Linked DNA regions of Homo sapiens. The protein of the gene in region 3 interacts with the protein of the main gene of each other region in a biochemical or structural test. Each region holds a gene or a part of one and is shown on either strand. Other genes may lie near its edges.

The links.
Region 1: the proteins of LGALS3 (region 3) and TRIM5 form a complex in vitro, tested with the Homo sapiens proteins (one study listed by BioGRID).
Region 2: the proteins of LGALS3 (region 3) and TRIM23 form a complex in vitro, tested with the Homo sapiens proteins (one study listed by BioGRID).
Region 4: the proteins of LGALS3 (region 3) and ALCAM form a complex in vitro, tested with the Homo sapiens proteins (one study listed by IntAct).

Annotation. Positions count from the first base shown.
Region 1 is NC_000011.10:5,662,012-5,668,592, reverse strand, and holds the end of TRIM5 (tripartite motif-containing protein 5), read left to right. Parts: intron 1-493; coding exon of another isoform or gene 494-694; exon of another isoform or gene 695-875; intron 876-881; coding exon 882-904; intron 905-2,511; coding exon 2,512-2,612; intron 2,613-2,910; coding exon 2,911-2,937; coding exon of another isoform or gene 2,938-3,086; exon of another isoform or gene 3,087-3,197; coding exon 3,198-3,784; 3' UTR 3,785-4,419; coding exon of another isoform or gene 4,420-4,558; 3' UTR 4,559-5,398; downstream 5,399-6,581.
Region 2 is NC_000005.10:65,606,455-65,614,655, reverse strand, and holds part of TRIM23 (E3 ubiquitin-protein ligase TRIM23), read left to right. Parts: intron 1-436; coding exon 437-558; intron 559-800; exon of another isoform or gene 801-929; intron 930-2,774; coding exon 2,775-3,053; intron 3,054-3,612; coding exon 3,613-3,795; intron 3,796-5,197; coding exon 5,198-5,413; intron 5,414-8,201.
Region 3 is NC_000014.9:55,138,764-55,146,636, forward strand, and holds the end of LGALS3 (galectin-3), read left to right. Parts: intron 1-1,511; coding exon 1,512-1,600; intron 1,601-3,820; coding exon 3,821-3,986; intron 3,987-6,352; coding exon 6,353-6,508; 3' UTR 6,509-6,660; downstream 6,661-7,873. UniProt on the Homo sapiens protein: Galactose-specific lectin which binds IgE. May mediate with the alpha-3, beta-1 integrin the stimulation by CSPG4 of endothelial cells migration.
Region 4 is NC_000003.12:105,369,065-105,377,265, forward strand, and holds part of ALCAM (CD166 antigen isoform 1 precursor), read left to right. Parts: intron 1-8,201. UniProt on the Homo sapiens protein: Cell adhesion molecule that mediates both heterotypic cell-cell contacts via its interaction with CD6, as well as homotypic cell-cell contacts. Promotes T-cell activation and proliferation via its interactions with CD6.

The DNA.
Region 1 (6,581 bases), on a different chromosome or scaffold from region 3:
CAGTAATCCCAGCTACTCGGGAGGTTGAGGCAGGAGAATGGCTTGAACCCGGGAGGCGGAGGTTGCAGTGACCCGAGATCACGCCACTGCACTCCTGGGCAACAAAGTGAGACTCCTTCTTAAAAAAAAAGAAAGAAAGAAAAATATCTATACTTGTTTAGTACACTTGTTTGCTTATACCCTCAGCAAAGGCCGCGTAAACATCTTGAGCACTATTATTCATTCATCTTTGATTCTTCAAAATGTGACATAATGCCTGGAGAATAAGTTTATATATATATGTTTTCTTGTTTATTTTTGTGATTTTCTTTTTGTTTAGAAGTGGGGTCTTACTCTGAAACCCAGACTGGAGTGCAGTAGTGTGATCCTAGCTCAGTGCAGCCTCAGTCAAACTTCTGGGCTCAAATTCTCCCACCTCATCTTCCCAAGTAGTTGGAACTACAGGCTCATGCCACCATGCTTGGCTAATTTTTTTTTATTTTATTTTTTGTAGAGATGCGGTCATGCTATGTTGCCTAGGCTGTACATCTGTTTAATAAATCAAAGAAGCACTAATTATTTAAATCATTTCATGGAGAGCCATATACGTTTGGAGAAAAACAAATTGTCAGTCACTTCTTTTCCTTCTAAACATGTCCCATCTGCAGAAACCAGGAGCCTCTTCCACAGGGATGAAAGCTATTTCTACTTTTAAGGGAACTTGGAAATCTCACATGAGTCTTCTGGGATGATTGCCTTGAGTCTTATCTTTGCTTTTTTGTCTTTCACACTGTCACCATCTCCATTCTCAGCACATTAGGAACCGGGGGAAATGTGATGAAGCTTTATAAGTGAGGAGAGACTCTTTCTTTCTTAATTGATGTTTTCTCTCTTCTTCCTAGGGTGTGGATGGCGTCATAAAAAGGTATGTGTGGGAGGACAGAGATGGTCCTTTTGTGCAGTGAGGAGAGATTTATAGCCATTAGAATTGTCCTGGGTTTAATTAGAATAAAACATCTCCCAGGGCAGAAAAATTTCGATATTGTTTTATCATAAATTTCTGGTCATAAATCAGCATTCGAATGTTCTATAACTATTAAGAATAGACCAGATTTGGCCAGGTGTGGTGGCTCAAGCCTATAATCCCAGCACTTTGGGACGCCGAGTCAGGAAGATCAGGAGTTTGAGACTAGCCTGGCCAACGTGGCAAAACCCTGTCTCTATCAAAAAAATACAAAAATTAGGGGGGCGTGGTGGCCCGTGCCTGTAATCCCAGCTATTCGGGAGGCTGAGGCAGGAGAATTGCTTGAATCCAGGAGGCAGAGGTTGCAGTGAGCCAAGACCATGCCACTGCACTCCAGTCTGGGCGACAAAGTGAGACTCTGTCTTAGAAAAATCAATAAAATTAAATAAAATTAAAAAAAAGAAAAGGAATAGACCAGATTCTATGGTAGAAAATTTGGGTGGTGGAGACTCGGAGTGTGGGTCAGTAGTGGTTTCAGGGAGAAGGTGTTGCAGTGTTGGACCCCTGCGCCATCACCATTTTATTACCTACATCTAGTTCTCTTTCTGTATTTAATAGGTTCTTGATTTATTTTGGATGGGCCATATCTTCTTTTTCTCTTATATACCCCTAATTGTCCATTGGGACAATTCCCACATGTTTATATTTTCCTCCTGGAAAAAGACCAGTTCCTCTTCATTTATATTTAGATTTCCAAAATCAGATGTTTATTTCCGGAATAATATTTCAAAATAATATTCTGGATAATATGTGGTCATGGTACAAAGAATTGATCCACCTCAGTTGCATTCTTTACAAGAGCATAAAAAGGTGCTATTCTTGTGTCTAAAATCGCACACCTCGCACACCTACGTGGTGGTATCAAGTTCTTTCTAACCACACGATATTCAGGCCAGTAATAGTTTAGTGCACATAATTTCTCATTTGCCAAGTGTTTGTAATTTTTCCCGGAAATCTGAAACCTTAGATGTTATCTGAGTACCTCCCTGCTGGGAATAGCTTTGAAGGTCTTAGGCCTCTCCAAACAGGATTCCTCTCTTGATATGTGTCAAACACCCAGGAGCCAGGTTCTGCAACCTCACTTTCTAACCATCTCCCTGGGAACTCAACATACATAGCGATGATGTTTCCACCCATTAAATGTTAGGGTTTCTTTTGTAAGGCACCAAAGTTTTGTTTTGTTTTGTTTTAAAATCCTTTTTTTTTTTTTTATGTCCTATGAGTTTAAGAATGTAGACAGGGAGAGGTTAATTATTTCATTTTAGAAGGAAGAAACTGTGCTTCTGAGAGGTTAAGATCTTCCCACGTTCTCACAGAAAGTAAGTGGGAAGGCAAACATGAGAACATTTTGTTTGCCTCCAGGGTCAAGAGTTTGCACTCTCCCTTCTCAGGATCCCCAAGAAGAGAGTTCAAGTGCCTCAATGGGTTGAAATGATAGGAAGTCAGGGGTGTTCCACGGACACAAGGTCAAAGGTTTGGAAGTTTTTTTTTTTTTTTTTAATTCTTAGGACGGAGAACGTGACCTTGAAGAAGCCAGAAACTTTTCCAAAAAATCAAAGGAGAGTGTTTCGAGCTCCTGATCTGAAAGGAATGCTAGAAGTGTTTAGAGGTGAGGAGAGCTAGATCAACAACAGGGTTATGGAATTCAAGTGGTGTTAGGGTGCTAAATAGGGAAGAGGGTGCAGTTTCCAAATATGGATAGAGGGGATAGGGGAGGATAGATATTGTCTGCTGCTGATGGGATTATATTTAATGGGAAATGGCTAGGTGGCTGTTTCATCTCATCATTCAGCAATTTACTGCCCTACCATAGGGCATACCTACTCTTTCCCTAATCTGGAGAGAAAATGAATTTCAGTGCTGACTCCTTTGTTTGTATTCAATATTGTGCATTTTTATCATTTCAGAGCTGACAGATGTCCGACGCTACTGGGGTAAGGAGAAGTCACATTATCATAAGCCACCCTGCGGCTTATCATTATTATTATCTTTATCTTTTAGAATTTTATGTTCTCTATTAGGCTCATGTTTTAAGATTTATGATTCTCCTTCCAAGACACACATAACTTACCCCTCCTTATAACTTCTAAACAAGGTTCCTCCCAGTTTTCTCTCAAGTCTTTATCAAGATTTCTCTCATATCACAAATAAAGTTACATTATATCCCTTAGCTGACCTGTTAATTTTTCTACAGTTGATGTGACAGTGGCTCCAAACAACATTTCATGTGCTGTCATTTCTGAAGATAAGAGACAAGTGAGCTCTCCGAAACCACAGATAATATATGGGGCACGAGGGACAAGATACCAGACATTTGTGAATTTCAATTATTGTACTGGCATCCTGGGCTCTCAAAGTATCACATCAGGGAAACATTACTGGGAGGTAGACGTGTCCAAGAAAACTGCTTGGATCCTGGGGGTATGTGCTGGCTTCCAACCTGATGCAATGTGTAATATTGAAAAAAATGAAAATTATCAACCTAAATACGGCTACTGGGTTATAGGGTTAGAGGAAGGAGTTAAATGTAGTGCTTTCCAGGATAGTTCCTTCCATACTCCTTCTGTTCCTTTCATTGTGCCCCTCTCTGTGATTATTTGTCCTGATCGTGTTGGAGTTTTCCTAGACTATGAGGCTTGCACTGTCTCATTCTTCAATATCACAAACCATGGATTTCTCATCTATAAGTTTTCTCACTGTTCTTTTTCTCAGCCTGTATTTCCATATTTAAATCCTAGAAAATGTGGAGTCCCCATGACTCTGTGCTCACCAAGCTCTTGAACCTTCTTACACACTCAGCCCCTTCTGTACAGCACCTCTTGTCCAGGTGCATCTCATACACCTGAACTCATTTGCATCATTTTAACCATCTTTTCCTTGCTGTCTCCCTTCTTTCTATTTGAACGTCCTTCACTCATCAGTAAAATGTAATAATTGCCTTGTGCCATATTGTCCCCAATATTTTATTGACATTTGATAGCAATTTTTTTCATCATTTTCCGTACTCCTAAGGAAAACTGACCTATACCTCATAAAATGAGACCGCTATTTAGGTATTACTTCTGCCAGATATTTATCACCCAATTGCCTCTGACACTGACTAAGAAGATGAAGAAAAGCTTTTCAACAGCCTTTCTATATCATCGTGTGATAATTGTTCACCAATGAATGAGTCCTTAGCCCTGTGTCAGTTTACCCTCGATGCCCTTATTTGTGAGTTAAAGAGAAAATATCATAAATGGTATACTCTTAAGTATAGAGGTTTTGTATCTAGAGGATCTCAGTTCAACTCCTGTCTCTCCATATACCAGCAGTGTAACTGTGAATAACATACTTAAATGGCTGTGCTTATTTCCTTTTCTTTTCTTTTTTCTTTTTTTTTTTTTTTGAGATGAAGTTTTGCTCTTGTTCCCCAGGCTGGAGTGCAATGGCACGATCTCGGTTCACTGCAACCTCCACCTCTCAGATTCAAGCAATTCTCCTGCCTCAGCCTCCCAAGTAGCTGGGATTACAGGTGCCCACCACCACCCCTGGCTAAATTTGTATTTTCAGTAGAGACGGGGTTTCCCCATGTTGGTTAGGCTCGTCTAGAACCTCTGACCTCAGGTGATCCACCCGCCTCGGCCTCCCAAAGTGCTGGGATTACAGGCGTGAGCCACGGCGCCCAGCCTGTGCTTATTTTCTTAAAATAATTTTTGTATTAAAAACTTCACATTAAATAAGTGCTAATGTTTTATTGCATAGTAGGGTGACTAGAGTTAACAATAACCTATTGCATATATTTTGAAATAGCTAGAAGAGAGGATTTTGAAAGTTCTCAACACAAAGAAATGACACATATTTGAGGTGATGGATATGCTAATTACCCTGGTTCGGTTATTACGCAATGTATACATGTATCAAAACATCACACTGTACCACATAAATATGTATATTTATTATTTGTCAATTAAAAGCAAAATAAAACAAAAAACCTTCATCTAATACTTTGGATCATTGTGAAAAAATAAATTCCTGAAGTATAAAGCATCTATCTAAGTGTCTTGATCTAATAAGTACTTGTTCTACAAATTATTGAAAAACATAAACTCTGTTAATGTCTCATGGAACAGGTTGTGCCTTCAGGGAAACTAGGATTGGATTTACTAAATTCTCATTTTTTAGATCTCAGATACTACTGTCAAAATGACTTCAATTCTGCCTTCTATATATAATACACACATATATTTAGGATTTTATTGTAATTCTAGTGTTGCTACATATTAGTCTTTATCAAACAAACTGAATTATGTGGGAATCAGTTTATTAATTGTAAAAAATAATTATAATAAAATTAGCTGATGTAGTTTTTTAAAAGTTAAACGAGTTTTTTGAATAGCTTCACTCATTTCTAGCATGTAAGGGGTAATCCATTATGGTGTTGGGCTTTTTTGTTTGTTTGTTTGTTTGTTTGTTTGTTTGTTTTGAGACAGGGTTTGTCTCTGTCACCCAAGCTGGAGTGCAATGGCACGATCTCGGCTCACTGCAACCTCCATCTCCAGGGTTCATCCTTCCACCTCAGCCTCCTGAGTAGCTGGGACTACAGTCACGCACCACCACGCCCTGGTTATTTTTTGTATTTTTGGTAGAGACAGGGTTTCACTATGTTGCCCAGGCGGATCCCGAAGCCCTGGGCTCAGGCGATCTGCCCACTTTACCTCCCAAAGTGCTAGGATTATAGGTGTGAGCCACCATGCCCGGCCTCATTATGGTGTCTATTAATTTTTGGTTCCCTCTCACTGTGACTGAAAGCAATAATTTTTAACAATATGTAATAGTTCTTTTCAAAATTATCTTTCTCCCTTCGTTTGAAGAAATACAAGAACTAAGTTAAAAATCACAGATTTTTCTTGTAGAAAGTTTTAAAATAAGTGTTTATAAATGGGAAAAAAAATCTTTGTTCTTAATTTCATAGCTGCCTAGTCTTAAGTTGTTTTAAGTATTTCTGAGTACTCTAATTTCATTGTAAATTTTTCCTGTTTGCCAAGTAGTAAAAACGTATTTTGCACAGTGATGCAGATAAAGTCAGAAGTACATGTGGCATTTCTCAACAATGGTATCGATAAGTGAATTGTGAGCCCAGGTTAGCCTGACTCTTCATTAAAGTAACAAAGGCATGGTAATTTTCATAAATGACAAAAAAATACTTGTTCTCCTTGTTCAGTGAGGAGAATTATTTTTGCAACGGATGTTTATGAAGGGCATGGTAGGATCCCTATGTCTATTGGCATTTTTATTTCCAACTCTTTCCCAAGTTTTGAGCTGAAGTTTTTTGTTTTGTTTTAATGGTCTACCTCATCAAATAGTCTCTGCTCTTCACCCTGCTTCCCCACAGAAATTTTAAGGTCTCTATCTTTGTGGTAACTTTAGTCAGAGAAGGGATTCCAAGGTGAATATTTTCAGTAACTATGTGTGTGCACACACCTCTCTACCTCAGCACCATCCAGGGAAACCGAGGAGGTTGATGCTATAAATTTTCCCTTTTACCTCTGCTTTCCTGTCACCCAATGCTATGAAGATTGAGGCTTTCACTCACTGG
Region 2 (8,201 bases), on a different chromosome or scaffold from region 3:
TCAAGCAATTCTCGTCCCTCAGCCTCCTGAGTGGCTGGGATTATGGGCGCCTGACGCCACACCTGGCTAATTTTTGTATTTTTAGTAGAGACGGGATTTCACCATGTTGACTGGGCTGGTCTTGAACTCCTGGCCTTAAGTGATCTGTCCGCCTCAGCCTCCCAAACTGCTGGGATTACAGGCGTGGGCCAAAGCACCTGGCCAAAAAATAATAAATTTTAAAGTGTGTTTCTACTTGGAAGGCTGAAGGATTCTTCTGTTTTTTAAGAGAGCATTAACAAAGCAATTATTTTGGTATTAAAAATGGGGAAAATTTGAATTTTAAAAATTTAGACATTAACTACTGAACTATATTAGAAATTACTTTTGAGGTATGGGTAAAATGATTAATAGTCCATTTTGTTAGATTTAGTTTTTGTTTTTATATTTATTCTAGGTGATTCAGGTGTCTGGGGATTGAAAAAAAATTTTGCTTTATTGGAGCTTTTGGAACGACTGCAGAATGGGCCTATTGGTCAGTATGGAGCTGCAGAAGAATCCATTGGGATATCTGGAGAGGTATTGATCATACTTGGTGAAATATTTGTTACGAGCATGAATTTTTCTTTTAATAGATGCCATTATTAGCACAATATTACTTCATTTATTTCAGCAGGTAAATTTCTAGAAACACAACTTTTCATTACATTACAGTTCTGAAGGCCAACACTATTCCCAAGAGAAAAAACTAGAATTATTTGAAAATCCTATGCCTAAACTATGCTTTATGTGTGAACTTTTTTTTCCTTATCATAATTCAGTTCTACCAAGAATAAAGTGAAAAGAGGAAGAAGATTATGGAATAGTAAGAAAGATATGTAAGCAACAGTAGAGAAGAGGATGCAAAAGTAGTCAACAGTAAAACTCAATGAGAGAAAGAAAAACTCGATGTAAGAGGCCATTTAATACAGAGGGGAAAATGCCTTAAAGATAGCAGTAACTTCTGAGGGAATTGTTACTGTTATAGCTTCAAGAAAAGGTTAAACTTTGTATAGATGTACTGTCTTTATCCATACAGGTAGATGTCTAGTAAATATCAGAATCCATGAACACTGGATTTTAATAATGTAAAAGTATATTTTTAGCACTTATGTGTTTGCATAGCTGCACATATGTACTATAGGACATGGCTTTCGTAGGCTGTTATGGGTAAAAATATATTTGGAGTAAATATCAGTTAATGATTTTGGTGATCAACTTGCAAACCACATATTTTGTATGAAGGAAAAAAAATGTCGGATTGCTTTCACTTCTCTTTCATTAGATGATGATTTCTTTATACTAAAGTGAATCAGTGAAATGAATTTCAAACTGCAACACTCTGTTTTCTAAAAGTTATGCAGTTCTTTCTGTGCTAAATCTTTAATCTTTATTTCAAAAGACATTACTGTTAGCTAATGTTGACATTATAGTTTATAATTTATTTATTTGTCAGGTCTGGGAAACAGAAGACCTGAATTTTTATGGTACATGTGTTTATTTCTCATAATTGCAAACAAAACTCTTCCACTTTGGATTCATTTTTTATTTAATGTGATAAAGAATGACACCATTGATGTATTTAAACATTTTTATTTTTGAAAAAATTTATACTAAATTTCTCCCCTTCCAATTATGGCCTTTTAATATTGAGTAAAAGTGTTCAAAACATTCTTGATTATCTGACATGTAATTTTTTATCTACTTGAAATAAAAGTAATTATTTCATAATTAGTTATTTTTTGTAATTCCTGAAAACTAGAAATAATATTTACATGCTTACATATAGGTTTTATTTATTTGTTTATTGTTATTTTTTAAGACAGAGTCTCACTCTGTCACCCTTGCTGGAGTGCAGTGGCGTGATCTCAGTTCCCTGCAGCCTCCACTTCCTGGCTTCAAGTGATTCTCGTGCCTCAGCTACCTGAGTAGCTGGTATTAGAGGCATGTACCACCACACCTGACTAATTTTTGGATGTTTAGTAGAGATGGACTTTCCCCATGTTGGCCAGGCTGGTCTCTTACTCCTGGCCTCAAGTGATCACCTGCCTCAGCCTTCTTAAAGTGCTGGGATTACAGATGTTAGCCACTGAGCCTGGCCTATTTTTTTTTTTATTTGCTTAAATCAGTGGTTTTCTGCCGTGATTGTGCAATAGACTCACCTGTGGAGCTATTAAAATAACATGGCGTATAATTAGAAAAATATATACAAGTCTAGGGTTCATCCACAACCTGTTGAAATAAGAATTTCTCTTCCAGACAGCTATGTTTTTAAAAGCTTACAGCTAATTCTGATGCATACTCCTACATTTTCTAAATAGCATTTGTGCTTCTGTCCTTCCTATACATCATCATGACAACTAATATTTAAAGCTATGGGGATGTATTTAATATCAGATTTTTGTAGTTTTACAGAAAGACTTTTGACTTCTCTATGGTTTAGTTTCTTTTGTGTAAAGTGAGGGGATTTGGTGGAAGAGATCTTTGCACCGAATATGAATCTATGAGAATAGTTCTATTTTTGGCTTCAAATTCATAACATATATTGGCCAGTTAATCTTGGAAATAGCTTCTTACCCCTAGAAATGAATGCTTCTCAGATGAGTATTGAATGACCTTTGTTCTTAATGACCAATATATTTTCATATGTAAATATTGTTCAGTTAAGCAAAAAGGATTATGGATTCTATATTTAAAAATTCGTCATGTTATACTGATTGGGTTCAATTTTAAGGCATTAATTTTTTGTTTATCAGAGCATCATTCGTTGTGATGAAGATGAAGCTCACCTTGCCTCTGTATATTGCACTGTGTGTGCAACTCATTTGTGCTCTGAGTGTTCTCAAGTTACTCATTCTACAAAGACATTAGCAAAGCACAGGCGAGTTCCTCTAGCTGATAAACCTCATGAGAAAACTATGTGCTCTCAGCACCAGGTGCATGCCATTGAGTTTGTTTGCTTGGAAGAAGGTTGTCAAACTAGCCCACTCATGTGCTGTGTCTGCAAAGAATATGGAAAACACCAGGGTCACAAGGTATGAATTTAATTATTAATCAGTTGGATCACTGTAGCTACTTTACCAGCTCAGTATTCGTTTTCACTGACCTGGTTCTTTATTCTGAAAGTAGGGATTGAAGAAGAGTTAAGTGATGAGTGATTGGGTTTGGTAGCATGAAAATAAATGAGAGATTTAATTTCTGAATGTTATAAAAAAAAAAAAACTTCAAAGAGGCATCATGATTCTTCACAAAAAAATAGCTTTCGAGCAGGAAACAAACATTCTGTTTGCTTGCATGTTTTCATAATGCACCAGATTGTTTTGACAATATTTATGTCTGTTAGCTCTTACTTAGGATATGATTTTAGAGATAGTCTCTTGGTTTTTTGTTTAGCAATAAACGGACTTCCAAATTTTAAATTACTTCTTTGCAGTACAGTTTTCTTATAAAGGAGTGAAAGTAAATTAGTATTTTTCTGTGTCATAAAAGTCACTTGTGGCTGATGCTTTTTTGTATTAATAGGGATTTAAATAGTTTTTTATATTATTAGTCAATACTATGAGTTCTTTTCTCTAATTATGGTACATTTTATAGCATTCAGTATTGGAACCAGAAGCTAATCAGATCCGAGCATCAATTTTAGATATGGCTCACTGCATACGGACCTTCACAGAGGAAATCTCAGATTATTCCAGAAAATTAGTTGGAATTGTGCAGCACATTGAAGGAGGAGAACAAATCGTGGAAGATGGAATTGGAATGGCTCACACAGAACATGTATGGATTTTTTTTCTTCTTCACTTTCTCATTCTTTTTTATTTTTCATATTTTCACCTTCTACTAAGTAATTAATGGGCAATTACAATTTGCCAGTATTGCACCAATCATTAGAAAGTTTTTTAAAAGTCCCTGTCTTTCAGGAACTCATTCATCATGGAAAAGAGAGAGTTTGAAATATGGTAACTATTTTATGGAGGAGAAGTACAGGGTGCTTTGGCATCACAAAACAGGGACAATGATTTATGGAGGTCAGAGAAGTCCTTATAGAAGAAATGGTGTTTAAACTGAGATTTGAAGAATTTCAGTCAGGGAAAAGAGCAGAACGGGGAATGAGTTGTCCCAAGAAGGGAACAATATGTTAAAATGTTTGTAAGTGAGGATTGTACATATTGTAGAGACTTAAAGAAGCTCACTGTAGTTAGAGCTTTAAGTATTGAATGGGACATGACAAGAAAAGAGGATATGGAGAGTTCAAAGCCAAATCATGCAGGATCTTGTCAGCCATGTTAAAGAGTTCAGAACTTAGTTTAAGGACAGTGATGAGCCATTGAAGAATTGACTTAGGAATGATATAATCAGATTTTCCTCAAGAAAGGTTGTTTTAAATGTAGAAAATGAATTGGAGGAGCAACAAAATTGGAAGCAGGCAGACCTATTAGGATGTTGTTAAAGTTTTCTAGTTAAAATACTAGAGATGTTTATGGCCTATAATACACTAGGGTAGTGAGAGTGGACACAAGTCAATGGATTTGAGATTTTAAATAAGTAGAATAGATAGGTCTTAGTGATTAATTGTTAATATTGATTGGATAGGTAACTTAGAGGTGATGAGGCATGATCAGATTTTGGGTGTATTTTGAAGTCAGCAGAATTTGCTGAGGGACTAGTGGGCTATGAAAGAGAGCTGATAATGATGACTCCGGTTGTTTTTGCTTCAACATCCTGAAGGATGGAGTTGCCATTTACCAAGACAGAGGCAATTAGGTTTGGGAATAGGGGAGACTGGAGATTAGGCATTCCATTTTGCTTGAGATGTCATTTATAAACAGTTGAATTTCCAATGTCTGTGCATTAGGGGAAAGATCTAGCATGGAGATTTATATTTTGGAATTTAATATAGATGGTATTTAAACAATGTCTCGCTCGGTCACCCAGGCTGGCATGCAGTGTTGTGATCACCACTCACTGCAGCCTTGACTTCTGGGGCTCAATCAATCCTCCCGCCTCAGCCTCCTGAGTAGCTGGGACTACAGGCACATGCCACCACGGCTGGCTAATTTTTTCCATTTTTTGTAGAGACAGAGTTTTGCCATGTTGCCTAGGCTGAAATTTTAAATATTTCACAGGTAAAATCTTTATTAACATTACAGTTGCTTAAAATTTATTTTCATTTTCTTAGGTACCAGGGACTGCAGAGAATGCCCGGTCATGTATTCGAGCTTATTTTTATGATCTACATGAAACTCTGTGTCGTCAAGAAGAAATGGCTCTAAGTGTTGTTGATGCTCATGTTCGTGAAAAATTGATTTGGCTCAGGCAGCAACAAGAAGATATGACTATTTTGTTGTCAGAGGTTTCTGCAGCCTGCCTCCACTGTGAAAAGACTTTGCAGCAGGTAGGTAGTTTAAATGTGGTTAGGGACTTAGTTGTAAGTTTAAGTAGATAATTACCAGAGGTATACATTAGTGTGTTTTATTAATATTTTGTGTCTGCTGTATGCAGTAACTTTGTGCTTAGGAAATGGTCTGCAACCTTGAATTATTTCACTAGTATGGAATTATCAGTGTCGTTCACGTGCCTTTCCCACCATAAGCCATGGGTTCTTGAGGCCTTCTAACTTCTTGCCATTCTTCAGTTATGCCAAATCCTTTTACTCTTCTTTGCCAAGCATATATGTAGTTTTTTTTTTTTTTCTGCTTGGAGTGCATATATCTCTCTTTTCTAATAGTGGAAATCTTCCTTCTCCTTCAAGGTCCAGCTTAAATATTTGCCTTTCTTTGAAGCTTTCTATTTGTTGGTCTTTTTTTGAGTGCCTCTCTACCATGTACTGCCTACGTCTGCTATAATTCAGTGGTTCTTCACTGTTAGAGCAAACGTATGTTTTGTGATGGTTGAGATACCATAAGAAATTTGTTACCCAGTTTGCAGATGACTTACTTTTTTAAATAAATGAGATTCAGTTATTCTAACACAAATGTCAGCTTTACCCATTTGTGTTTTGGATCTGTTTTCATAAGTGTGAGGTATAAGAATAACTATTGCCCTAGGAATTTCAGAAAAGCTGCAGTCTGTGTTATCTTCACTGATATATTGCTAATAATTGTGTTGATTTCAAATCATTGTAGGCTAAGCCTTGTACCATTGTAGAGCTTTTTCTCTTAAATATGTGATTACACTTACATGAGAGTGGCCAGTCTATAGCCTCATCAGTCTTGGGTTATCATTTAGTCCTTACCACACTGAATTGTAACAGTTGATATGTATGCTATTTATTAAGTTGATTTTCAGCTCCAAACCTACTCTTCTATCCTCTATTTTGTGATACTAGGGCTAGAACTCTACAGACCTCATAATTGTGTTGCCAGCTGGGCCCATGTTAGGTACTGTCAAGAGGGGGCATAGTTACTCATGTGAGGAGACCACCCTTCTCGGAGGTTTGAGTTTCAGCTCCATGAGCCACTCCTGCAAGTTTCTAAGTTTTAATAATTCTAACTTCTTCCTTTTATTCCTTTAGCACTGGAAGTGGTAGCTATGTTATTTCATACAATTGCTACCTCCTTAATACCTCAGAGTTCCTTTTAACCTTTTAGCTACCTAGTTAATAACTACACCTAGTTAACAGTTTTTATTTTAAGTTCTTTCTATTCAAGTAATGGTGTGATTTGTGTCTTCCGATTTGACCTTGAATGACACAATATGCCTATGTGTTTTAGATGCTGACCTTGTTCATCTTTGATGCATCTTGTTCATCTTTGTGTCACTAAATTCTTTGCATCTAGATAGAAAGAGCTTAATAAATACATGTTTAACTCATGGCGGATAATGAAGCTACATAGCAAAATCAGAGTGGAGTCATGTCCTAAATCATATTTACTTGAACACTTAAAAGTATTTTCATATTTATTTTATGAAAAAGTTTGTTCATAGTTACTGAAATATTTAAGTATTTTAGAGTTTCTGAAGTGTTGTGCCAAAATGACTGGTATATTAGTCCATTTTCACACTGCTTTACAGATACTACCTGAGACTGGGTAATTTATAAAGGAAAGGGGCTTAATTTACAGGTTTGCATGGCTGGGGAGGCTTCAGGAAAGTTAGACAATCATGGGGGAAGGCGAAGGGGAAGCAAGCACCTTGTTTACAGGACGGCAGGAGAGAAAGAGAGAGCAAAGGAGAGGTGCCACACTTTAAAACCATCAGATGTCATGATTAATCACTATCATGAGAACAGCATGAGGGAAACTGCCCCAATAATCCAATCATGTCCCTCCCTTGACATGTGGGGATTACAATTCGAGATGAGATTTGGGTGAGGACACGGAGCCAAACCATATCAACTGGTAATTTTTAATGATACAGTATTATCTATGTTAATGCAAAAAAATCAAGGTCTTGGATTCATTTTTCATATGGACCTATTAGTTTTGTTCTATTTTATAACTACAGAATACTAACCAATGTTCTTTAAAGTTCCCACTACAGAGAAAATTGAACAGAGGAATGGATGGAACATCACAAATTGATCTTCACTTCTGAGAACATAATTTAATCATCCATCCACTCTAAACAAATTATGCATCATCTAAAGTTCTTGGCATGATACTGGATGCTGAATATTTATTCATTTAGCAAATATGTATTGAGTAGCTAACATATGCCATGTATTTAAAATATATCAGTGAACACAATAAGCAAAAAGCCATAATCTTGTGAAATTAGCATTCTAGCAAGAAGACAGGCAATAAACCATAACCATATCTAAGTAAGTTAATTATACTATATGTTAGAAAGTTCTGAGAGCTAATCAAAAAAGAATTCTGCAACTACATGTTTATGTTTGTACAGCAGATTGCATTAATAAGTAGAGTAGTCAGGGTAAGCATTATTGAGGGAAGGTGAGATTTGAGCAAAGATTCAAGTAAAAAGTTGAAGGAATTCGTTCAGGCCGTAACTGGGAGAAGAACATTGTAGTTGAGGAAATGTTATAGCAAAAACCCTAGGGCAGCATGCCTGGTATGTTTGAGGAACAGGAAAATAGGCCTCTTGACTGGAGTAGAATAAGCGAAGGACAGAGTAATAGGAGCTGAAATCAGAGGTTAATAGAGAATTATATGTAAGGAAGGCCCTGTGAGGCATTATAAGGACTTCAATTGTTTTTTTTTTTTTTTTGGCCGGGGGCGGGA
Region 3 (7,873 bases):
AATTTGTCCAGGGTCATTGAGCAAACATGTAGAGGAACCAGGGTAATCTGGTTTTGAAAAACCTTCTAAAGATAATTTTGTGATCTAAGGGTTGAATTTTCACGCAAATTAAAATATGTCATAGCAAGTGAATTCTAAGTGTAAAACATAACTCCATGGGGGATCCAGATACATCTCAGCCACAGGATCCTTCCTTTCCAGATTTATAATCTAGTTGGATGATAAAACATATAATAAATATGAGGAAAGAGCTAAGTACCAGTATGGGATTAGACCATTTCAGGACTATGCAGAAGACAGCACAAGGTAGCATTGTCTCCTTTTAGGTCAGTTTAGAGTAGAAAGACTTGGGGGAGTGGGTGGCATTGAGAGGGCCTATACCAGAGATGGTTAGTCAGTTGCAGAGAGAGGGAGACATGAAGGCTGTGGAAAGGAACAGGCAGATGTAAGAGAGATTACAGAGGAAGAACCCCCAGAATCTACTGATTATGTCTTAGGAGTCATAGAGGACTCTGACTTTTCAAGGCTGAGCAACTAGAGCCATCAGCAAAGCTTTAGCCCAAACTGGGAACTCATGAAGGGGAACTGATGGGGGAGGGGGTAGGGAAGACCATTCTAGTTCACACTTGTTGAATTTGAGGCACTAGCAGCAAATCTAGGTGGGAGGAAGTACAGGACTAGTACACACCAGGACTAGAAAGAAAATATTTGGATAGGCTGGGTGTGGTGGCTCATGCCTGTAATCCCACCACTGTGGGAGGCTGAGGCAGGAGGATCACTTGAGTCCAAGAGGTTGAGGCTGCAGTGAGCTATGATCACACCACTGCACTCCATCCTCAACAACTGAGACTCGGATTTTTGAGACCTTGTCTCAAAAAATAAAAAGGTTTGGGTGATAGTTAAACCCAGGGGGAAGTCTTAAAAAGGGAAAGAAAAGAGGCCATAAATAAATAGAGCTTTGGGGATATTCACAGTACCTTGAATGTAGTTGGTCAATAAACATTTGTGGAATGAACCTCACAGTGTTAACAGTGTTCATTCCATAAATATTGAGTATCTGCCATATGCAAAGCACTCTGCTGGAGCCATGTGAGTACAAAGCATATGAGAACCCACAAGCCCAGAATGTGATATGCTGCTTGCCCCCAGGAAGCAGAATATCCACAGTAAAGCATGTACCATGACAGGGCCTTAAGAGTGATACAAAAATGTTAATGTTGATCACAAGATCTAGCTTAAGCCTTTCCAAAAATAGTCAACATGAATGAGTACAAATTGGGATGGCCGTAGTAATGAGATTTACTGATGGCTTTCTTTTCAATTATTTGTACATCTAGGGAGCCTTATCTCTTTGGCCCCTGGGCAAAGTGGCCTGAGAGTCTGGACAGATGGCATATACTAGAGTTATGTGTTTTTCACACATATTAATAGTGATGGAACTTTAGCAACATCGTTTTTTCCCCAAAGAAACATGACTCCTTATTGACACATATGTACTTGTTAATTCCCAGATTGTGCCTTATAACCTGCCTTTGCCTGGGGGAGTGGTGCCTCGCATGCTGATAACAATTCTGGGCACGGTGAAGCCCAATGCAAACAGGTAAGGAGAGCAAAATTAACAAGTCTACTCTATTTGTAGATTGGTTTTTGAATAAAGAATGGCCTACTTTTTTTCTTCTTGCCCTGTCTTACAGTGCTATTTTGAATTTTAGTAAAATTTTAAAAACTACATATTTAGAATCTTGGCTATACCATCATATAGGATTATCCCATAAATCCATACATATTCCCATATAATTTTGCTAAGCATCATGGCACTCATAGTAAACGGTAACACACCTTATTCTATACTTTGATATGTATTATGTCAGCTAATCTTCATGGCTGAAGGCAGGATAAGGAATATTGCTCTCCCCTTTTTATAGACAAAACTGAGGTTCAGGTTCTACAGATGATCAGTGGCAGGCCTGGGAACCCGTCTTTTGAGCAGATACTATTTGCTTATGGGTTTGAAGAGATTCTACAAGTTAAAAACTTCATCATTATAAATCAACCTTTACTATTGGAAGTAGTTTGATTGATGAGGTGGGCTAGGATGGGGTGAGGCTTTATTTAGGAAAATACATGCTAATTATGGCTGTCCTGGGCTGCTTGGCCCTGGTTGTCACCACTGGTTATGTAGTACTTACATATCATACAAGGAAGCTGGCCATGTCCTGAAACCATCTGAGATGCCTGCCCCTAAGGTTAGTGGAACTGTCTCTAGGTCTTATGGACAGTACCTAAATGGCACAAATTCAAGCCATGTACACAGGTTTATGCAAGAATCCATAAACAGTCTCAGTGTCTGTCACCTTGCTCCACATCCTGCAATCAAGAGATGGACTTCACTTCTGATCTGATAATTTCACATTCAAATGCTCATTCCCTCCACCTCAGCCAGCCTCCTCTGCTTCTGCAATGGTAGTCACTATCCTAAGCCAACCCATCTTTCCACACAGCCTAGACAATTTCTGTAAGCACAGAACTTCCCCGTACAATAATGCCCGTCTCATAGCAAATTACAAAATATATACATCCTCTACCTATGTCCTTATCCGTATTTCCTCCCAACATCACATAGAACCCAGCACACCTTATCCTGTGCACACAGCACTCATGATTTATTAAATATCTGCTCTCCTCCTCCCACAACCCCTAACGCACACTGAATACCCAGTTTGGTATCCTTGTCTTGTTAGAGTCATTTCACTGGAAAGTTTAGTTCTAATAATGCTAGAGATGTAGATTGAGACTGGCAGATCAAAACTAATTCTGGTTGAAATGGTTAATGGTAGTAAACTTAAAAAAAACTGTTGCTTAGTCCTGCAAATTCTATATGACGAACTGTGTAGAAAAAAAAAGTGCTTAAGGTGACAGAGATGACAACATTGTATATTTAGTCAAATACAAATTCTATGCTGTTTTTTCCTTACAAATTTAATCACTGGAAGATCATTTGTGGTTGAATGTGACTGTTACTGGGTGAATCAAAATACACAGACAATCTTTGTTAGTTGGTCTAGAGTGCAGATTAAAATACGAATACCTACTGATGACTCTGGTGTTACCGCTCTATAGAGCGCACTTTGAGAAACTCAGGGATGGGGTTAGTCAAAGAGGACTTGTGTTTGCATTAACCTCCAGGGAGAAGGAACAGGGTCAAAAAGCTAAACTAGCAATTTCATTGGTTCTGGCTCACATCATAGAATGTTTACCACATTTACTATCATGACTTTACAACTTAGCAACAAGATACTGAATATTAACTACCTTATCTCATTCTTGCTGTTTTAGAGGAACTAGGGCTTCTGGTTAATTATGAGGAAGCCAGGTATTTGATGGCTGTTAACTATATAGCTGGCTTGCCTTTACCAGGTATTGAAAGCAAACTGGAAGAGCAGGAAAGAGATAACCATTATCTATAGTAAGGGATAAAGTGTCCTCAGAGTGGCTCTAAACCTCTGTAAGAAAACCTCGAAGGGTTTTCATGAGTCTGTAGGGGCATTACAGATGAATGGAAATATGATCGAAGACAATGAGGCAAAAAATTCAACATCTATTGTCTTGCTTACCTTTAGATTTTGTGATAGTACATAGAATATCAGGCATAGGATATTTTCCAGTTTGAACCCATTCTGATTTATTTGCTTTCCATTCAGAAAAATTTCCTAGGTACTGTATTATGAAATTATTTGCTTTTTAGAAAATTACATGTTCTTTACACAGTGCAAATGTACAGCTTTAATCATTTTAATAACTGGTCTTTGGTTTAAAACAGAATTGCTTTAGATTTCCAAAGAGGGAATGATGTTGCCTTCCACTTTAACCCACGCTTCAATGAGAACAACAGGAGAGTCATTGTTTGCAATACAAAGCTGGATAATAACTGGGGAAGGGAAGAAAGACAGTCGGTTTTCCCATTTGAAAGTGGGAAACCATTCAAAGTAAGTTATTGCTACTATTATATATTGATAATGTATATTTCTCATGAGGAATCACTCTAAAACCCCAAAGCACTTGAAGTGAGAGTTTTTATCACCTCTCCTAAGGTGCCTAACCAGTTTATCTTCTCCCTGCCCAGGGGACCAGGCTCAGCAGGCTGAGAACATGGCCAGGAGTGGCACACTCCCCAGTTCCTTTCAGGCACCTCTCCATCATCACTGCTGCCACCCCTCTGAGTTTAAGCCTTTCTAGAAATGAAAAGAATATAATCTTTAACAAAAAAGGCAAAAAGTCTTTATGGTACAGTTATACTGCGACTTTGTTGCTTAAAACACAGTTGGCAGAGAGATGAAAACTAAAGGTTTTTTATTCTAAAATTAAAGTTTTATGAAAAGTTTATAAATTTTTAAATTAACAAAGTTTCCTATCTTTTACTCCTTCCCCCATCCTCACAAAGTTGCAATTCGATGAGTATCTTCCCAGTATTTTCTGACATACAGCACGCTTTTTATTTGTAAGCACTGCTTCAACAAATTAGATCCACAGCATTTAGGGTTGACTATAGAGTGGTGAATAAAACAGCTGGAGTGTAAACTCTTCAACAACAGGGACAAATAAGGACCACAGTCTACATTTGGTGGATATCTTTTCGTATCAGAATATTGTTACTTAATAGCACTTTTTTTTTTTTTCGAGACAGAGTCTCGCTCTGTCGCCAGGCTGGAGTACAGTGGCACGATCTTGGCTCACTACAACCTCCGCCTCCTGGGTTCAAGCGATGCTCCTGCCTCAGCCTCCCAAGTAGCTGGGATTATAGGCGTGCGCTACCATGCCCAGCTAACTTTTGTATTTTCTGTAGAGACGGGGTTTCACCATGTTGGCCAGGATGGTCTTGATCTCTTGACCTCGTGATCCGCCCACCTCAGCTTCCCAAAGTGCTGGGAGGATTACAGGCATGAGCCACCATGCCTGGCCAGTAGTATTTCATTTTTAGATATGTGATAATTTAACCAGTACCCTACTGATGAAAATTTACAGAATAGAAACACTCCAACCTGGAAAGATTTTACTAAAATACTGTAATAACTATCCTTACAAATCTTTGCTTCCTAGAAGCAAGTCTTCTAGAAATCTTTGCTTCCTAGAAGCAAGTCTTCTAGAAATCTTTGCTTCCTAGAAGCAAGTCTTCTAGAAATCTTTGCTTTAAATATACATGTTTACAATTTAGATATTGTCAAATTGCTGCTTCCAAAAAGATATAGGAATGAACATCCACTATTGGGAAGAGTAGATTTCTCCTACCCTTGCCAAAACTGATTATCATCAATCCTTACAACATTTGCCAGAGGAATCCTATTTTCGTGTTTTTCTTTTAGGTGTTTTAGACCATATCAGAACTTTTGGTTGTTTTGAGACAGGGTCTCACACTGTCACTCAGGCTGGAGTACAGTGGCATGGTCACAGCTCATTGCAGCCTGTCAACCTCCCAGGCTCAAACGATCCTCCCACTTGAGCCTCCTTAGTAGCGGAGACCACAGATGTATGCCACCCACGTGTGGCTAATTTTTGTATTTTTCTTGTAGAGATGGGATTTCACCATGTTGCCTGGGCTGGTCTCAAACTCCTGGGCTCAAGATCCGCCCGCCTTTGCCTCCCAAAGTGTTGGGATTACAGGCGTGAGCCACCACACCCAGGCTCTTTTAAGTTTTTATGCAGGCAAATCTTTAGCCTCCACCTTTATGGCTTCACTTATGTATCCTTCTAATAAATTTGCTGCTTTAAAAAAAAAACCTGAATAACTTGGAATTTTTTTGTTGTTGCTTTTTGTTTTTTTGAGACGGAGTCTCACTCTTTCGCCCAGGCTGGAGTGCAGTGGCACTATCTCGGCTAACTTCAAGCTCCGCCTCCTGGGTTCATGCCATTCTCCTGCCTCAGCCTCCCAAGTAGCTGGGACTACAAGGTGCCCGCCACCACAATCAGCTAATTTTTTGTATTTTCAGTAGAGATGGGGTTTCACTGTGTTAGCCAGGATGGTCTCGATCTCCTGACCTTGTGATCCACCCGCCTCAGCCTCCCAAAGTGCTGGGATTACAGGCGTGAGCCACCCCGCCCAGCATAACTTGGCATTTTTGCTGTAAAGTTACTTTCTCTGGATCTTAACTGGTCCCACAAATGATAAGGATGAAATGTTGGACATCCTGGGCTCAGGCCAGACTGGTTTGAAATTAATGGACATTTTTTCCCTTTATTTCAGTTGACAAAAAATTGTTTCTATAGTGCAGATGAAATATGTATATATTGTGGAATGCCTAAATCCAGCTGACATATGCATTACCTCATGTAACAGTTTATGTATATGCCATTTCAGATACAAGTACTGGTTGAACCTGACCACTTCAAGGTTGCAGTGAATGATGCTCACTTGTTGCAGTACAATCATCGGGTTAAAAAACTCAATGAAATCAGCAAACTGGGAATTTCTGGTGACATAGACCTCACCAGTGCTTCATATACCATGATATAATCTGAAAGGGGCAGATTAAAAAAAAAAAAAGAATCTAAACCTTACATGTGTAAAGGTTTCATGTTCACTGTGAGTGAAAATTTTTACATTCATCAATATCCCTCTTGTAAGTCATCTACTTAATAAATATTACAGTGAATTACCTGTCTCAATATGTCATTTAATTGGAGTGGTTTATTCTAGATAATGCACAATGGAAAAAATATGTAGCAATATTAATACTGCATTGGGGCCTCAAGGTTTCCTATACTTGTTAAAATATTTTTCTTAAGGAGAAAGTAAATATTACCACAAAATTATCTCTTCCAGAATTTCATAAAAATCAGCTGTTTCAAGAAAATTATTCTCTCATTTTCTTAAGGAAATATAACATGTTCAGGAAATCAGAATAGCATTAAGAAAAAGTTAACCTATAGATGACCTATGACCCATAGACAATTATTGTTAGGATTCTGGTATATTTCTTGACGGCTTTTTAATCCTATTTTCTCCTTCTATAGTTCACTGCTTTCAAATCAGTAATTTGATACCAATATAGGACCATCTCCCTGGTTTTTATGAAATCTCTTATGGAGAAAAAGGTATCTTATATAGTCGGCTTTCAAAATTTAATTGTTCCCATCGTCAACATTCTTGCCCATGCCTTTCTACCCTTATTAGCAGCAAGCCCAAAGATTAATAAAATTCCAAAACTAGGATGTGGCAAAACCACTTCATCTTATAGAAGACCAACATTTTTTTTTCTTTTTTGAGACAGAATCTGACTCTGTCGCCCAGGATGGAGTGCAGTGGTGCGACCTCAGCTCACGGCAACCTCCACCTCCCAGGTTCAAGCAATTCTCTGCCTCAGCCTCCTGAGTAGCTGGGATTACAGGCACCTGCCACCATGCCCGGCTAATTTTTGTATTTTTAGTAGAGACAGGGTTTCACCATCTTGGCTAGGCTGGTGTTGAACTCCTGACATCGTGATCCACCCGCCTTGCCCAAAATATTATTTTATACAATACTATCTTTTCAAATCTGTTAAATCAGTAATTGTCACAGGTTGGGTCTCCCAGGAAGCAGAGAGATTAGATCTCAAGAAGCTTGTGAGGGAGTGTACTTGCAATCAATACATGTGGGGATGGGAAAGACATGATTGAGTTGAGGGAGAAGTTGAGCAGCAATAACTTACCCTACCCTAGGGGGAGTTCTGAAGCTGGGATTCTTCTTCAGAGCTTCAAGCGGGGCCAGGCCTTTTTATACCCCCACTTTGATCAGTCACTGACTATAGGACACCTGGGAAAGAGAATGTGACCTGAGATGAAGTGGCTCTCTTCAGCTGAGGCAACATAATCCTCACAAGGGATGTCAACTGAGGGCTGC
Region 4 (8,201 bases), on a different chromosome or scaffold from region 3:
CCAGGGAATGAGCCAAGAAGGGAGGACAAGGGTGATGTCGGTTTGTAACATGCAAACGTCCACACGCCCACAGTTGGTTTTCCGATTAACCCCCTCGAGACTTGGAGAATGTAATCTCACCCTCGTCCACACCCCTGACACAGGCACATAACCAGTTTCCTTTTCGGTGCCGTCACAGGCGGGCCACGTCGCAGGATAGGTTTTTCTACACATTTAACTGCTAAAAGGGGGAAAGTTCCGCTTTCAGACCTCCTTCACGGTGGTTCTTTTGGCGCCACAGGCTCGTGTGTCCAGGGGGCACCGAGCTGCGCGCTTTCGGCGAGCGGCTAGCCCCGGCTCACCGCAACCAGCCACCGTGAATCTGAGGATCCGATATCGGCCCTGGACCCTCAGATCCGTGGTTTCGGTGAATTACCGAGCTGGCATTGCCGAAATTCTCATTGCAGTATCAGTGTGTTTTGAAAGGAAAGGTTACAGCACTAAAGGCGCCGTGTCTACACTGAGGAAGCAAGTCTTGGACAGTAAGTGCGCCTTCTTCGGAGCCCTCTGCATAGCAGAGCCCGGTGGGGGCGCGGTGCCAAAGGCCGGCTTCATTTGAGCGGGGTAACTGCCTTCCCTGCCGGCCACTCTTCATTTCCGGAGCAGTTTTAATAGTGTATGTCCAGTTGTAGAGGTCAAAAACTCGAGTTTGTGAAACTGCTTCCCCGGGTCTTTCGGCTTGTAGTCGCTACAAAGTCATTGATATATTTTAGGCGTGCCACGTTACCTGTTTTGAAAGGAGGAGAAAAATATATGAACCACGAAAACTGAATTCAGAGATGAAGGCAATGAAGTGTGTGTTCAACATCCGAGATAGCAATATTCTCGTTATTCTTGTAGAAAGAGCGTCAGCCTGTGGTGACATTTTGTATTGCTTAAAAAAAGAATGCTTTTCTGGATTATTTACAAGGAGATGGGGCGCTGCAGTTAACTCTTTCTTCACTTGGGTCATCTGTATGAACCCCTCTATGGGATTTTTCATAACTACTCACTGATCTCACTGATATAAGATTCATTCTAAGACATAAGCACACATAAAGCTTTCTTCAGTGGGATATTATGTTTGAAACATATCAATTGATCTCAACAGGACTTGGGAAAGCATCAACTCAAATAATGTCCTTTCAAAGACTATTGATGTAGGACTATTGAAATTGATTAATTTAAAAACTAAAAACTGTTTAACAGCCAATATATATATATTTTTTCCTTAAGGATTTATTTAATCCAATAGCAATTTACAATTTAATGGAGCATTATTTGCAGTAAATTGCTTTTCTAGGCTTTCTTCAGGACATCTACCTTCAGGCACTTGAGCAAGTCATTTAACCTTTTTGAGCTTCAGTTTTCTCATACAAAATAAAAAGACAGACTAGAGGCCTACTCTCTGAAATGTCTCCCAGCTCAAAAACTCTTTGTTTCTGAAGTCTTAAGGTAAAAAACCAATTTAGGCAGGCAGAGTCATTTTTCAACACTATTTTTCTAAGGATCTCAGTCTAGACAAAATTCATATAAATTGTATTATTAGAAAAGTATCAGTAGACCCCAATTTCTAATTTCCTTTTTTTTTCTACCTTTAAAAATTCATGATAACATCTATGCTTACTCTTTCCAGCCTTAGTAGGGAAAAAAAAAAGCGTGAAGGAGAGAAATTAGCCTTCCACTCTCCTGGGAAAAGAGGACCCAAAAGTAAGAAAGGATAGTAGGCCTCAGAAAGCCCTGCTAGTGTAACTCATCTCTCCTGCAAACCTGTTCCTATATAAACTGCATACATAGTACCTAGAATGAGATGTAAATTATGGTTTATGCTTAAATATTCATATGACAAAGCCTCATATTGTACATCCTAAAGTTGCTCAAAAAGTTGATTTGCAACATGGTTGTAAATGCAAGACAGAAGGAAATAGAAAATACTAATATTTTTCTATTGTTTTAAAACTTGTAGAAATCCAAAATATCTTGTCTTACCAGATTCCAAACCTTTTCTGACTTTGTAAAAAATTCAAACTAGCTTATCTTTTTTAATAGACATTCAGATGAAAATGCATGTCTACCATTGACTTATCAAAAAGAAGAAAATTAATTAAATAGTCTTGTGTTATTAGAAAAATTGTATATTGTAGTCAGTATTCATGTGTTCAGTTTCTAACTATGTCATGTAAGAATGTTGTGACCTTGGGAAAATTATTTTTCTGCTCTTTTTTATTTCCCATCTGTGAATTTCTTTCTGTGCAATGTGTGGTTCTGATTGTGTTGAGATTAGTAATTCCCTTGCTCAGCATTTCAAATTTTTTAAGTAAAACGTGCTATATTAATTAAGGCTTTTATTATATTGTTAATAGAATAACATTCTTTAATTTATTCCACTTAATTATCACTTTTATCATTTTATTAAAATAATGGAAAGATGTTTCTTTTTTTTTTTCTCTTTTTTCTTTTTCTCCGTCAAATTTTCATGCCACTAACCGTGGGCCTTTGTAAAACTTAGTACCACCTAAGTTGTCAATATTACTTGGTGTAAGATGGCAGCAGTTTGTCAGATAGTATTTTAAATGCTTTATAATCACCATGTTTTACAATTCCAAACACACTTCTTTCTGTTCTGGCCATTTATTTAGCATAAAACACCATCAAAGAGTTCTAGCTCCCTGAAGGTATTCACTCAAGTAGACACATGCAATTTATAGCCCAGATATGCAGAAGATCCACTTAGGTATAGCTATGATAGAAGAATATGTCTCTGTCTCAATGTATACATAGAAACTTAAATGCAATTTCTCACAATGTGTTAATTTTATTCTTCATTGTTAAGTATTCACAGAGGCTAATCTCATTTCTTACACATTATGTGTGTGACACATGTATGTGACATATGAAGAATGAACTAACTTACTGGAATACTAAAGAATGGTTTCTTGGGTGTGGTGGGTGATAACATTTATTTGGTTATTACTTTTGGATTTCAACTCAGTTTATTTTCAATAAGAAATGGAAAAAAATCCATTTATACTTTTGATTACTTTTTTTATTAGGGTAGAATTTTCCTTTCCTTGTGGAGAGTAAATTCAAGACTAAAATAGATATTCTATATTCAGGAAGAGAATATTGCAGGCTGTTTGGTAAGGTTAAATCTAAATCCTACAATTATTATAGTGTCCCTATAGTACGTAAGTCATTACCATATTTTTGGAGTTACTGATATTTTCATGCAGCTAATTTCTCTGCTTAAATAATAAATTTTACATTCTCTTTTCTCCCTTATTATTGAATAGAATACCTTATATATTTCAGATAGGCCTAGTTCCAAATGTGGTATGGTATTCAGTAATTGTTTTATGCTAACCTATTATCATAGCCCATTACTGTAGTCTATGTTCCAAGAATGAAATTAGCTTTTAATGCTTCCTCTCTTATTTATCCAGTCAGTTCTCAATTATCCATTCCATTGAAGGGGAAATCAGAGTTGCGCACAATCCAAAACATCTTCTAACCAAAGGATTACTTAATTTGACTTTGAGTTGAGGTACTTCAATGAACATGTCTATACTTGTCTGGTCTAAGAATTCATAGTACTTCAACACAATGAAACTAAACTGCTGGGGAATAGGTTAATCAGAAATTAGACAGCTGTCCAGCTTCTCTGATTTGCTTCTCTATTACTGTTATTATTGTTTTAGCTCTTTTCTGTATCACTTAAGGAACTGATGCAAAATCTTGGCCCAAGTAAGACTAAAAACATCTATGAGATGAAACTAAACCTTTGCAATCTTCTCAAATCCTATAAATATTATAGACCCTTGATGTTCATTCACAGGAAAACATACTATGACCATGGCAATTGCTGTAGTCTTCTGGCCTTTGCTCAATGACACTTCCACTATGAATAATTTGTTTAGCTCTGCAAAATCACATTTCAAGTTTTAGAAAAATTTTACCCTCACCTGGCCCTTTTTCTTAAGCAAGTTTTTTATTACATCATATGAGTTTCCATGAATAAATGAATAATAAAGCAATACCCTTTTCATGTTATGAGTTGGGTTAGCAGCCAGGTAGGTTGACTCTCCAGTAGGATTTTCACACACCTGCTTTTAGAAAAAAAAATTACTACTTATAATGGATTATGGGGTTACAGTAAACAGTGAAAACCAGTAATATCAAATCCATAAATGTTAGGAAGATTGGAACTTGTAATTAAAAAAGACTTTATTTTTGATTATTTTAACTTATTATGATGATTTCACTAGAGAAGTTAACTGAATTTGTAGATTAAGATATCAACCAGCACTCCAACACAATGTTTTCTTGAGGGAGATAAATCTCAAAGATACTTTCACCTTAGAAATTGATATAAGTAGATTTTTATCCTCTCCATCTGTATAGTTTTAGAGAGAGTCTAGATTACCTTATTTGAACTGTGAATGAAGAAAAAAAAACTTTCCTGTACTTACTTGCCTTTGGTGCAAAATCAACATTGGAATGTTGATAATGACTAAAGTGAGTCTTAACTTTTCCCTTTTCCTTTTCCCTGTACTTGTCTTTGCTGTAGTTTTTACCACATTGTATTATGATATTGGTGACTTTTTTCAGTTGAACATAAATTTTTTGAATACCAAATATCATCTTTGTCTATGTATCCTCAAGTCTAGTTAAGAGCTTGACACCTAGAAGCTGCTTCACATTTTTTCTTTGCATTAAATACAGTAGAAGCAATGCATATGTGGAGAATTAAACTCCATATGGCAGCACCTGACATTCATGCATTACTAAGAAATTTTCTCAAGGAGTTTGGGAGTTGAGGATATAATATTCCTCACTGAGAATTGAACTGGAAAATAAAACCATCATGAAAGAACAGAGTGGGACAGGCTATCAAGACCTGATGGCACTTTAGTAGTATTAATGAAAAACAAAAAGAAAAGAACATGTATATTCGTAAAGGACCTGTGATTAAGGATGAAAAAGACTTTGGTCATTGGAGAAACACAGAAAAAGTAGAGGAGTTGGGCCAAATGTGGTTATTGAAGCTATTATACTTAATGAATCCAAACACTTTCTTTTATGGTGAAAGTAAGTGGCCCCTCTAACTGGCAGACATGACTTGCCCAGTCTCCTTAGCAGGTATAGCTTTTTGTTGAGATAGATAAAACTCATTATAAGAACCTAATTCTGGGGCCAGGCTCAGTGGCTCATACCTATAATCCTAGCACTTTGGGAGGCCGAGGCGGGCGGATCACCTGAGGCCAAGAGTTCGAGACCAGCCTGGCCAATATTGTGTAACTCTGTCTCTATTTTCTTTTTTTCTTAAAAAAGAACGTAATGCTCTGAATATTCAAGTCATATAGTAAACTTTCCCATGGTGGAATTTCATGGTCACTAAGAAATCTTCTAATTATAATGTGATGCTTGTTTTTTGTTTTTGTTTTTGTTTTTGAGACGGTGTCTCGCTCTTGTTACCCAGGCTGGAGTGCAATGGTGCGATCTCTGCTCACTGCAACCTCTGCCTCCCGAGTTCAAGCGATTCTCCTGCCTCAGCCTTCCAAGTAGCTGGAATTACAGGTGCCCACCAGCTCGCCCAGCTAATTTTGTGTATTTTTAGTAGAGACTGGGTTTCACCATGTTGGCCAGGCTGGTCTGGAACTCCTGGCCTCAGGTGATCTACATGCCGCGGCCTCCCAAAGTGCTGGGATTACAGGCATGAGCCACTGCACCGAGCCCAATGTGACTTCTTATATAGCCAGTTTACAGTCAGAGGATGCACTAGCTGGAAGAGAAGCATTGTATTCCCTTGGCAATAATTGCTCTTATGTATACCAATAAGCTGGTTTATGAGTTTGGTTAGTGAGAATTCATCTTTAAAAGATGGGAAAATGTTTGGTAAGCAGCCAAAAGAAGCTTCTAAGTTTTCAGGGTTGAAACCTACACATTGAACCCTTCCAAATTCAGCTTGTTTGTGGTACAATCAGCTAACCATTCCCCAGGTGACACCTATGGTGTCATTTGTTGTCAACTTGTGTGTTACCTATTATAGACATTTATTTTCTTTCTTGTATATCTTTTGGTGCTATCTTGCTTAATATGCATATTATTAGTAGGTTGACCATTCATTCATCTTGGTATACCTAAGACTGTCCTGGTTTATGCCTCATGAGCTGGTACAATTATTAATGGCATCCTTTTTCATTTTCAGAAGTGCATTTTGCATAACATATCATACAGGCTCCACAATAATTTGTAACTTGTCTTTATGTCTTGGAGTACTTCACTGTGATAAATGCACTCTTCATCCTAACCAAGTGCATATTTTTAACCCATTTAAATTTAATTATCAGCTACAGTGAAATATCATTAATGGGTTATATGCCCCTTTCATGTCAGGTATAAGAAAGAAAGATGTGAGGTTGTAGCCTCTAGAATTCCAGAATGTTGTGGATATGAAACATTGAGGATCCTATGGTTTGGAATGGAAACTAAATTGACCTCAGATGCCAAGGGAATAATTTTGTTTGAAATTCACCTGGGAGCTACACTTAGCTACGGGGTTATTTAGGGAAGAACTATTTCAGTATGAGCATGAATTCCTTTTGCAGCAAATTGTACAACTCCCATTCTGTTCTTCTATGAGATTTCTCAGTAATCACACTACCAATTTTTTTCTTAAAAAAACCAGGGATGTTGAAGGAAGCCCCAGCATTCTTCTGTACATGCAAACTAAGTTGTATCAGTCAGAAAAGGCGACCTGATGTGGCCACCAACAGTATGGCTAGGATACGGTTGTAGTCAAGGGTGTGACAACAGCAAAGACGCTTATCGCGGAAACTTTGACCCTGTATTAACAATTTTCACCTTCTAGATCCTTGGGCAAAACATACGGCCTTTTGAGAGGCTCAAGCAGTGTTGAATAAGAATACTTTCACTTAGAGCGAAAACCTTAACTCTCTCCAGAGTTAAATTATGGAAAGTTCAGTGTGTGTGAGTTTGTGTGTGTTGGGGGCTGGAGAGGAGAGAGAAAGACAGAGACAGAGAGAGAGAGAGAATGAATTCTGAAGGATTAGAGGCATGGAATTTATTGTCACAAGTTAAAATATGGTAAAAGAAGGGTTGTTGGAAAAATGAGAATGTTCTTTTGATGTTCTTTTTGTTTAGCCCCCCATTTGAGAGCTGAAATAAATGAAACCACAGGTTTAAGAGATTACCTAAAATCCAGTAGCAAATTAACCACAATTCCTAGTGACATGTTTTCAGTTTCATTTGCGCCTAAACTCATAGATTAAAGGTTTTGACCTGTAAAGAACCTAAAAATTAATTAACTACTTGACTAAGGTCACATTGTTGGCCAATCCAGAACTAAAACTCATGTCAATTGATCATTCAGCATATATAACAGCTTTCAACAAATATTAATGGAGTGCTCAGTATGTACTACACATTGTGCTTGAGGATATGGAAATAAACTAATTACTATACATTCAAGATCCTATCACTCAAAGATGTTATGTTCTCTCAGGGAAACAGATATCAATTAATTAACTATATAACTATTTGCTAGAAATTTTGGTAAATGTCACAAGAACAATGAACAGCATTTTACAACAAAGGGGCCAGATCTAGTCTGGGATTTAAGAGAAACTCAGAAAACGTCTAGCAGGAAGTGATATCTGAGCTACGTGCTGAGGAATAATCTAGCAAAGGATGTAGGCTGAGGAAATAACATGACTGAGGATGCTAAGGTGGTAAGAAACATGGTTTCTAACTCCTGGAGGTGAAAATGTGCCTATCCCTTTTCATGAAAACTAAAGAAGTTTTGAAGGTTGAGGCAAAAACCAAGGATTCCTTGAAGTTGTTCAAATACTTTCCTGCAATCTCCCTAATTGACTTGCCAGTTGTGGGATCTACAAAAGGATGTCTTTGTCTTATTGAAATATTCACATATTAGTAAATATTTGTATGTATACCTCCCTACTTAAAAAATAAAGTGGAAACATACCATATACATCATTTTGTACCTTTCCTTTTTCATTTAACAGTACATTTTGGAGATTAAAAAATTGTCTCATAGCAGCACCTATAGCTCTACCTCATTTTTAAAAAGTGTGCATTGGATTTTACTGTACTATCATCATTAATGTAACCATTTCACAAGTTCCTGGAAGTTTAGGTTGTTT